Linked DNA regions of Homo sapiens: region 1 is linked to region 2. Evidence: fine-mapped expression QTL. A gene starts in region 2. The other region holds a variant in brackets. All regions are shown on one strand. Distances are from middle to middle. Region 1 overlaps SUSD1 (sushi domain containing 1). Region 2 holds the start of GNG10 (G protein subunit gamma 10).

Region 1 (5,371 bases), 410 kb after region 2:
TGTAATCGCGAAACTCCCAAAGATGGGACACCTTGTGCCTGAGATTCTCCGAGTCCGTACGTGTTGTCTTTTCATATGTTACATACTTTATATGTAAGTGCTCAGCATCCCTTTTTCTGTGGAGAGCGGCCCTTCTCCTTCCCATATGGTTCTTATGGGGCCAGCATTCCCAGTACTCCAAATCCCCACTGGCCCAGGGCCCAGTGATTATGGATTGCCATTCCCCAGTCAGAAGATGGCTCAAAAAGAGCAATCTGTTTAGGAGATTGGAGGTTTTATTTTTTGTTGTTTATCTGTTTTTTTGAGATGGAGTCTCACTCTGTCACCCAGGCTGGAGTACAGTGGCATGATCTTGGCTCACTGCAATCTCTGCCTCCCAGGTTCAAGCTCTTCTTCTACCTCAGCCTCCCGAGTAGCTGGGACTACAAGGCATACACCACCATGCACAGCTAATTTTTGTATTTTTAGTAGAGATGGGGTTTCACCATGTTGGCCAGGCTGGTCTCAACACTCCTCACCTCAGGTGATCCGCCCACCTCTGCCTCCCAAAGTGCTGGGATTACAGGCGTGAGCCACCACACCAGGCCTAGAAGATTGGAGGGTTTTATTCTTCTTCTTAGATTGTAGCTGTAAGTACCAGGTAGGCCAATAGTACAATGTCCATCCTCCCAGGTCTGGCTGGAAGAATTTGGCAGAAAGAGGGCCTCATGGCTGGAAGAGCAACGGGCCTGTGGTGACACCACGTGTGACTGAAGCTTGCTGTCTCCAAACAAGATCCATCCTGGGCCTTCCCAGTTCTGTGATCCCACAGATTCCACATGCTTAAGCTGGTTGGAGTTGGGTTTCTGTCACTTGCAACCAAAAGAGCCCTGACTATAGAATGCATCCAGCGCCTTGGTATTCTGTGGAAAGGCAGAACCCTCAGCTGTGTACTGGCAGGAACTCTGGTGCTAGGCCAAGTGAACACGGTAGGGAAGTGGTCCTTATGCATTTGTGCAAGAAGAATTGCTGTGAATTCCAGGCAAATGCTAAACCCCTTGGGTGGTGGAGACAGTGAGGACAGCAGGAAGAACTGCCTTAAGAATCCCCTTTAGACCCTGGACTAAACCACCCCTCCTTCAAAGTCTATCACTGCATCAGCTCAGTAGGGCAAGGGAGGAAGGGCATGATGGAAGGAAAGAGAAAGAGCTATTAAAAACATATGTATGAATGCCTCCCCCCCAATCCCCCCACCCTAGCCCTAAACCCTGCCACTGTGAACTGAAGGACTCTGAGGCCAAAATAGATTCTCAAGACTGTATTTACCAGATTAGAAAATAGCTTTGGGGTAGAAACCCTCAATCTCAAATTATAATAAATAAAAACTTAGACCTGCCTGGACCTTTACAGTTGTTAAAGCACTACTATATATATTATTCATATATCTGCATTCAACAAACACCCATTAGCCACCTCTGCCGCAGGCTCTGTGCTAGGCTGGGGGAGACAAGCACAGAAGACATGCTTTCTGCTTTCTGGGAGCTTGGAGTGTAATCATGGAGACAGTTTTGTAAAGGTAGTGCCCAGAGCTGTGATGGAGTTATATACAGAGCACTGTGGATGTGAGGAGGAACATCTAACTGAAGGCAGGGAGCTGAGCCTATCAAACACGGAAATAGACATCTGCAGAGGCATGAGGTGGTGGCAGGGAGGGATAGAACTACATGGAGTTCCTGGCTGAAAGGTTGAGGTCTGGCAGAGTAGAAGTAGGTGGTCAAGTTAGAGGGGTAGGTGTGGGTCAGATCTGAGAGATCTGAGGTTCCAGAAGTAATAAGAAGCCATTGAAAGATTTTTAGCAGGCTGGGTGCACTGGCTCATGCCTGTAATCCCAGCACTTGAGGCAAGCAGGTTGTTTGAGGCCAAGAGTTCAAGACCAGCTTGGGCAACATGGTGAAACCTTGTCTCTACAAAAAATGTTTTAAATTAGTCAGGCACAGTGGTGTACACCTGTGATCCCAGCTACTCATGAGGCCAAGGTGGGAGGATTGCTTGAGCCCGGGAGGCAGAGGTTGCAGTGAGCCAAGATTGCACCACTGCACTCCAGCCTGGGCAACAGCTAGACCCTGTCTCAAAAAAAAAAAAAAAAAATATTTTTAGCCGTTCTGCACTTCAAAAATACAACTTAGAGAGCTGATCAAAGGATGAATAGAAAAAGGGCAAAAATACAGGTTGTCCAATAATCCAGGTCGGAAGTGCTCGAGGTCTGCTGCAAGTGAGAGCACTGAGAATGGAGAAGAGGGAACAAACGGAAACCTTGCTCAGGGGAGAGACGGCAGGAATCTGGCAACCAAGTCAGCAGTGATGTCATTTACCAAGTCTGGGGGAAGACGAGAAGCAGCTCACTTCTAGGTCTGTTCAGGTTGAAGTGTATAAGGAATCCTCCAGCAGGCAGTTAGAAACATAGGTCTGGAGCCTAGGAGCAAACCCCATGGTGGAGATACAGAGGCAGCTCACAGGGAGGAGTGAACGTGGCCACCAGGGAGCCAGTATCAAAGTATGTGAGGAGAGATGGGGGCCAAGGGCGGACCACCGAGAAACCCAGGCTCTAAGACCAGGTGGAAGAGTAAGAGAACTCTGTGGCCTTTATGAAACAGTGTTAGGTCTAGAATTTCTCCCAGAGTCTCTTAGACACTGCAATATAGATCATGTTTTTCCTAAACCTGCGGCATTGCCAGGTGTCCCAGGAGGTCACCTGGAAAAGCCTCTGCTTAGAGTCTAGGCCTCACATCACTCATTTGTTGAAATGAAGGTCTATGCTATTTTCAAGAGCAGTCCAGAGAGAGATTCTGTAGGATACAGCTGAGAAGACAACAGCTGGATTCCTGTGGCAGTGATGGAGGAGAGAGGAAAAGCCCACACATGTCCCCTGGGAACGTACCCCTTCCCCTTTGAGATCGAACTGCCCTCAGGCCCTTTGCTATCACCGAAATGCCCTTTCACTTGTGACGTTTTGTTGTCACAGTAAAATTAACTTTTTTTATTACGTGTCTCCTCTTCTCAGCCAAGGTGGAGATTAACTGGTCACTCTTTTCTGTGTGAGAACTCCGCCCCACCCCACCCCGCCCCGCCCCCACCAGCTCTTTACTCCAAGAGTAATAATTCTAGTTCCTCTAATCTC[T/G]TGGCTAACATTTTAAAACCACACAGGAGAAGCAGAACAAAGTACTCACTGAGCTCAGAAGAGGCAACTGCAGACCGAGCAGGAAGGCCATCCCCCTGCTTGGTCCAGGTGATGTCACTCTTTCCCAATCTAGAGTCACAGTTTTCAAGGCACCACAGTCATCTGGTTCAATCAACATGTGACTTTGAGACCATTTTCTGCTCTGTTTGCCTAAGGTCTCCCTGCCCTATATTTTATTTTATTTGTTTTTGTTTTTGTTTTTGCTTTTGCTTTTTGAGATGGAGTTTCGCTCTTGTCGCCCAGGCTGGAGTGCAATGGTGTGATCTCAGCTCACTGCAGCCTCCGCCTCCCGGGCTCAAGCAATTCTCCTGCCACAGCCTCCCGAGTAGCTGGGATTACAGGCATGCACCACCACACACGGCTGATTTTTGTATTTTTAGTAGAGACGGGGTTTCTCCATGTTGGCCAGGCTGGTCCCGAACTCCTGACCCCAGGTGATTCCACCTGCCTCGGCCTCCCAAAGTGCTGGCATTACAGGCATGAGCCACCACGCCCAGCCGCTGCCTTATATTTTAAACAGTCTACTTTTTCTCTCCAATGTACAAGCCTAAGCCTCGTCAGGCTGGTTCTCAGCCACATTTCGAGGTGGAACAAACTTGACTTTCAGCTGAATTTTCCAAGGTGCTCTTCCTTGTCTCCCAAACTGATGTCCTGGGTAGACCTGCTCTCCTTTCCATCAACCTCGTTACTGATTTAAACTGATTTAGACCCAAGGCAAGAAATGGGTCCTGCCTGTGCTGGAAAATATAGCTCTTTCACCTTGGGTGTGTGAGATGGGAGAGGAACCAGAACAGAGACCTTCATTACCATCCTCGGATGTCAGGAATATCCCTCCTCTGCTAGAAGCAAATGGCAAAAGAAATCCTCACATGGAGGGAAATGTGGGGAAAAGTAATGAAGGAGAATTTGCTCTGCAAAAAAAAATATTAAATGTATCATAAAATTACAGCAATTGAAATAGTAAAGTACACGCACAGGACAGACAAACAGTGAAAAAAAGCTAGACAGTCTGGAAAGAGACCCAAAGAAATGCACCAGGTGGCATGGATGGTCAGTAGTTCCAAAGGTGATAGGGAACTGGCTTACAGCTGGGGAGAAAAATTACAATGTAAATTTAGCCTCATATCAGACATCAAAATAAATTCCAAATGAACCTAAGTGGTTTTGTTTTGGTTTTGTTTGTTTGTTTGTTGTAGAAAAGTGGTCTCACTGTGTCGCCCAGGCTGGGGTGCACTGGCATGATCATAGTTCACTGCAGCTTTGAACTCCTGGACTCAAGCAGTCCTCTCTCCTCAGCCTCCTAGAGCGCTGGAATTATAGGAATGTGCCACTGTGCCCAGCCTGAAACTAAATTTTAAGTGCAAAAAAGTAGGTCAGGTGCAGTGGCTCCCACCTATAATCCTGGCTTTTTGGGAGGCCTAGGCAAAAATGATTGCTTGGGCTCAGGAGTTTGAGACCAGCCTGGGCAACATAGTAAGACCTCATCTTTACAAAAAGAAAAAATTAGCAGGGTGTGGTGACATGCACCTGTAGTCTCAGCTACTTGGGAGGCTGAGGCAGGAGGACTGCTTGAGCCCAGGAGTTTGAGGCTGCAGTAAGCTATGATTGTGCCACAGCACTCCAGCCAGGGCAACATAATGAAACTCAGTCTCAAAAAAAATTGAAAAGAAAACAAAAGAGTAAATAGCCTTGGAGTAGGAATTTGTAATATTTATCAAAATATTAATATCACTAATGAAGGTAAACTATTAAATCAACCAAAGAAAAAGGGTAGTATAAGTACAAATGTGTTAAAATGTCTCTATGTAAAACCCATCAAAATGAACAAAAAGAACCAAAAATGGAAGAAAATTTTATCTGCATCAAAACTAAGCAACGTCTCCAACTTTGTACTGCAAACTTCAAGTAAACACAAACAATTGAATTAAAACACAACTCCACCGCCCAAAAACCCAGTACAATGCTACTTTTCTGGATTTTCTATAATAAAAAGTAGGTAGAAAAATAAACACAGCATGATGGTTCTTTTCTAATCCTCAGGCACCTCTCCAGATATATCATCCCATCCAAGGCATGGTAAATTAAAATTGAAGGCAACAGAAAAAATAGTGTCTTCCACTACAAGTCATCAGCTAGATATATCTTCTCCATCAA
Region 2 (5,371 bases):
AGATGGTCAGCCTTCCTCAAGTACAAGTGGCGCCCGGCCTGCTTATCCATGGATCACAGACCATTCCTCTTGAACGGTGCAAAGTAACACTGAGGTGGGCGGGGCAGTGGGTGTGTAGGGCATGAAGGAGGCAGACACAGCACACCCCTAGACTTTTCCTGCTACCTCGTGGCTGATACAGTATGACATGGCTGACGTGTGTCCCTTCATTGAGGGCAACTCCAAAGCCTTCATTTCTAATGATTTTGAGGTAATCTCATTATTTCAGCTGCCATTGCTGTGGAGACATCTTCACATTAACATCTTGGCTACTAAACATTTTCAGCAGCCTAAAGGCATGTAGCAATGCCATGGAAGTCACTTCGTTACTCCTAAACCAAACCCCACATTATTTTTTACTCATCTCAAGCCAAGTCTTGTTTCCTAATTTCTGTTTTGGCATTAGTTCTGGCCCACTCTCTGCTACAGAACCCTTTGTCCTCTTTTCTTTGCATTTCATAACCACCATGAAGTACCACTGATTTTGTCTTCTAAATTTGTTCCCCCTCATTCCTACTCTAACAGTCCTACCCAGGGCCTCATTCCAGCTACTCCCCCACCATCAGCCATTTATCTTCTCAACTTCAGTTCATTTTGCACATTCATCTCAGATTAATATTCCCAAAATGCCTTACCCTGTGGCTATCCCACTGTTTACCATAAACTTTTGTGTGTATGTGAGGTTTTCTATGACTTCTGGCCCTAGCAACTTTGTATCTGCTATTAGTCACTAGAGCTTCCTCTATTTTTAAATTTATTCACTCTACATGTGTGCATCGCCTCCAGCTGTCCTCCATACTGGACTGTTCTTCCTTCTGAGCCATCTGCAAGACACGTATCTCCAAAGTCCAGCTCTCACGATCTATGATGAGCCTTTCCTAATCCAGTATGTATATCTTTGCACTGAGTTCTTTGCCATATCTTTTAAATATGAAATCATTCTATTTTGTCCTATTCATCAGTCTCAGAATTGATTGTTGAATGTTCCCAACATGTACTTTCATCTCTTTACTAAGATATATATTAATTTCTTTGTGGTGAGGAAATTGGCCACTAGAGAGGGCTTTCAAATGTGCAAGTCTCCCTTTGGCCCAGGCACAGCTAATCTGAGCACGTCAATGCCACACATCCTTGCCTTCAAAGAGTAATTGGGCCAGGGGTGGGCCCATGACTTAATACCAGCCAGTGAGGTTCATTATGGGGATTTTTGCTGGAACGATTAGAAAGAAAAGAGGTACTATTTTTCCTGGGTTTGCTAGATGGGGACAGTGAAAGTGTGGTGCCTTCCTTCATACCACTAGAGAAGTCCATCTACCACCAAGGAAAATGAGGCTAATCTCAGGAAAAGCAGAATCAAAACAAGGAGGATGAGAGCCCCAAAATTATTATTTGGGTAATTGAATTCACTAGTTTAAAGTCCCTGGACTTTTCAGTTACACAAGCCAATATATTACCTTTTGCAATATTCAGTTTAAGTGAGTTCTGACAAATACAATGGTGTACAAGAATAATGACGTATTAATGATACATGGAAAAAAGCAACACAAAAATTTTAAATATAGTAACGATCCCAGTTTTGTAAAACACTTATTAAAAAATGCAGTAGGCCTATAATGCCAGCACTTTGGGAGGCTGAGGTGGGAGGATCACCTGAGCCCAGGAGTTCAACACCAGCCTGGCCAACATCGTGAAACCCCGTCTCTACTAAAAATACAAAAATTAGCCGGGCGTGGTGGTGTGTGTCTGTAGTCCCAGCTACTCAGGAGGCTGAGGCAGGAGGATCACCTGAGCCCACGAGGTGGAGGCTACAAGGAGCTGTGATCACGCCACTGCACTCCACCCCGGGTGACAGAGCAAGACCCTGTCTCAAAAAAAAAAAAAAAAAAAAAAAAAGCAGCAGAATAGAAACAATGATGACAGTTAAATGGTGAGATGAGAGTGAGAAACGCTGAATTTAATTTTATTCTGTATGTTTCACAAAGATGTCAGGGTCTGGGATTTTATCCAATTTACCATACTCCACCAAATCAACTGGTAGGATCTCCGTGAAACAGTAACAGGGTCATTTAGAAACCTGTTGCTGCCTCATGAAAATCCTATGAACTCTCCTTGGTTCCCCGGTGATACTGTCTGGCAAGGCCCCTTATCTCTCCAACTCATGTCACACCTTGGCTCCAGTTCTCATTTCTCAGGGGTGCGTGTTTGCTGCCGCCCACTCCATCCTCGCGTCCCACGCCCTCGCGATTCCTGCTCATCCTAGGGGCGCCAGCTTCGCTGGAGGACGCCGCGCTCTGCGGGTCCCCGCCTCGGTTCCAGGCCCAGCTGCAGGTGCCACCCAGGTTTCAGGCGCTGAGGAGCGGAGAGCACTGCCAGCTCGCTGGGGTCCCCGCTGTCTCTGGCAAGCGGCTCCGCGCCGGGTGGGCTGGGGCGGCGGGGCGGGCGCAGCTGCTTCCCCGCCCCGGGGCGGCACCCGCGCTCGGGGCTGGCGGCTCCTCCCCGCCCGGCCGGGCCCAGCAGCCCCTAGGAGCCCAGCGCCGCCGCCATGTCCTCCGGGGCTAGCGCGAGCGCCCTGCAGCGCTTGGTAGAGCAGCTCAAGTTGGAGGCTGGCGTGGAGAGGATCAAGGTGCGGGCCCCGGGTACCCACGCTCCGGTCCTTCCGCCCGCGGGGCGTGAGAAGAGGAGGCCGGCGGCCCGGACCGGGCGCCAGCGGGGGACTCGGTGGCGGCGGCGAGGCCTCGGCGGGGCGCGGGGGCGGTGGGGTCCGCGGTGAGGGAGGGCGCGGGGCAAGCCGGGGGCCCGGGCCTGACGGGAGGAAGCCGCGCCTGGGGGGCCCCGCGGTCGTGGTCGGTCCCGGTCCCTGGGGGTGCGCCCACTCCAGAAGGCGGCCGTGGTCAGTTCCTCGGAGGGCGCAAGGGATGCCGGCGACGCGCGGGCCGGGAGGGTGGACCCAGGGCTGGGGAGGCCACCGCAGGGCGGCGAATTGGTGATGGATTGGTAGGATGAGAGCGAGAGGGAGGAGAGCCAGGATGCTCGGGTTTCTGTCGTCGTGACAGGGTGGACGGCGCTGCCACCCGCCGAGGTAGAGAGGAGGGGGAACAGGTTTGGGGAAATGATGAGTTCGGCTGCGGACCTGGGGACTCCGGGGAGTCATCCGGGAGGTATTTGTCCTCATGGCCTGAAGCTCAGCGCCCAGGGCTGAAAGAGGTCATTCAAGTGCATTGGGGCGAAAAAGCCTCTTCTATGAAGAGCAGAGCTCAGAGCCTGGGACCCGGGGACCAGCCACACCGATGGCCGGTGGCCGAGAGAAGAGGAAATAAGAGACAGCAAGGTTTCCGAGCAAGGCCTAGAGAAGAGGAAATAAGAGACAGCAAGGTTTCCGAGCAAGGAAGTAGGGATTTCCAAAAACTGGGGGCTCAGTCAACATGTCCAGCGTTTAGTCAGTTGGCTAAAAGGCGTCTGTTGTAGAGCTGTGTTTAGCTACGAGTGCAGCATTATTTGCAGAAGATCTGTAAGAAGGAACACAACCAGGATAGTCCCTGTGCCTCAGTTTCTCCTTTGCTGTGTGCCTGGCACTGCTACAGGGAATAGGGTGGTTCTGGAGGGGAAGGTAAACAGCAACTTAACGGATACATAGCATCGCTTCATGTACTAAGTGGAGTGAAGATAATAAACAGGGTAAAGGGAGAGAGGGCTGTGGAATGCAGAGGTCTGGTGGCTTATGTGTTAGTAAAAGCAGAATCTGGACTGTCATAGGGTAGGCAGACGTTTTTTCTTTTTAAAGAAACCTAGTTTTAAAGAGGAAATAACGTGTTTTTTTAACTTAGGAAATGAAAAGCCATGTTTTAGGGTTGAGAGGAAGTAACAAATTATATTTTTAGGTTCCAGGGAAGAAACAAATGGAAGCCAATTGCTGGTAGAGGAGACAGGGCTACGGGGGGGTGGGGGATTGGTGGCACAGCTTCTGAGACAGGAAGAAAGAAGGTAAGGGTGTGTGTAAAGATAAGTTTCTAGATATGGGCTAAACTTGTATGGTGACACTTTTCTTTGTGAAATAGGAGGCCAGGTTTTCTTCTAAGGCAGAGGAAAGGGGACTAAGGGAGTGGCCCCTGAGCAGGCACGCAGATGCGCTGTGACTGAAGACCCAGCTGCTGTGACAAGGGAGACTGCTGGTCATATTTGTGATTTTTTTTTTTTCCTGCAGCAATCTTTACCATCCTGGAATGTGAGTGCTGAAGGTGAACGGTAGTTGAAAGAGGAGTAAGTTAGCAGGGGAGGTATGCCAGAAAGGTGGAGGTGGGGCCGGAGGGCAAGGCGTGTGAAGGTCTGGCCAGAAAGAGGCTGAGCCTAGATGGATAGAGAAGGAATGCAGCCAGCCTCCTGGTGATAGGTGAGACAGAAGGGGAGGAGGTGATGCCTGGTGATCTCGGTGAGGTCAGAGCAGAATAAAGGAAGAATAAAGGAGGCAGCACCCTGGATGGGAAGGAGAGATTGTGATCAGAGAGTAGGATACTGGAGTGTAAAATTTCAGAAGTGGAGCAGTTACAGGTGTTGTAACTGTATCTGTTGGCATTGAGGAGAAGGCTGTTTGAGGGGAAGAAGTCAGGGAACTGAAATGAGGGTTGTTGGAAATTCACAAAGACAATGTGGGGACATGAGGTAGAAAGGAAAACTGTGAGCCAGTCAGATGCCTGTCTACCCGCCAAGTAGCTAAGAAAGAGGAAAGATATTCTTTTTTTTTTTTTTTTGAGATGGAGTTTCATTCTTGTTGCCCAGGTTGGAGTGCAATGGCATGATCTCAGCTCACTGCAACCTCTGCCTCCCAGGTTCAAGCGATTCTCCTGCCTCAGCCTCCCGAGTAGCTGGGATTACGGGCACCTGCCACCACGTCCACTAATTGGCTTTTTTTTTTTTTTTGTATTTTTAGTAGAGATGGAGTTTCACCATATTGGCCAGGCTGGTATCGATCTCCTGACCTCAGGTGATCCTCCCGCCTCAAGCTCCCAAAGTGCTGGGATTACAGGCATGAGCCATGGCACCTGGCCGGAAAGATGTGCTTATCTACCTTTTAAAAATGATGATGAAACTGAGAGCCATATAATTCAGGTGAATTGCCTGAGCTCGCAGTAAGCTTATTTACAAATAGGATAATAAGCCTATTTAAGAGGTGCGCTCATGGAAGTATGATCTGGGGTACTTGGCAGGGCTTCCCTCAGACAATACCTTAGAGAGTCACAACCATTCCAGGGTCTGGTCTACCTCACATCCTCATTCATTGTTGGATGTGCTTAGCATAGCCAGAGGTGTCTTCTCTTTGACAGACTTGCTATCTGAA

What was found.
Region 1: its variant is fine-mapped to the expression of GNG10 in whole blood (TOPMed, PIP 0.95).

The regions. Positions count from the first base shown.
Region 1 is chr9:112,066,591-112,071,961 of GRCh38, forward strand. All of the region lies in intron 12 of SUSD1 (sushi domain containing 1), which reads right to left. Among named protein-coding and RNA genes, the nearest start is that of LINC02977, 29 kb to the left of the region's middle. The variant T/G (reference allele first, on the strand shown) is at 3,158.
Region 2 is chr9:111,659,054-111,664,424 of GRCh38, forward strand. GNG10 (G protein subunit gamma 10) reads left to right here and starts at 2,552. Exons shown (of 3, transcript NM_001017998.4): 1 at 2,552-2,662. The coding sequence starts at 2,582. The region is part of intron 1 of DNAJC25-GNG10 (DNAJC25-GNG10 readthrough); the gene reads left to right. RefSeq lists enhancers at 2,133-2,192, 3,263-3,362, 3,563-3,612 and silencers at 2,373-2,822, 2,853-2,972.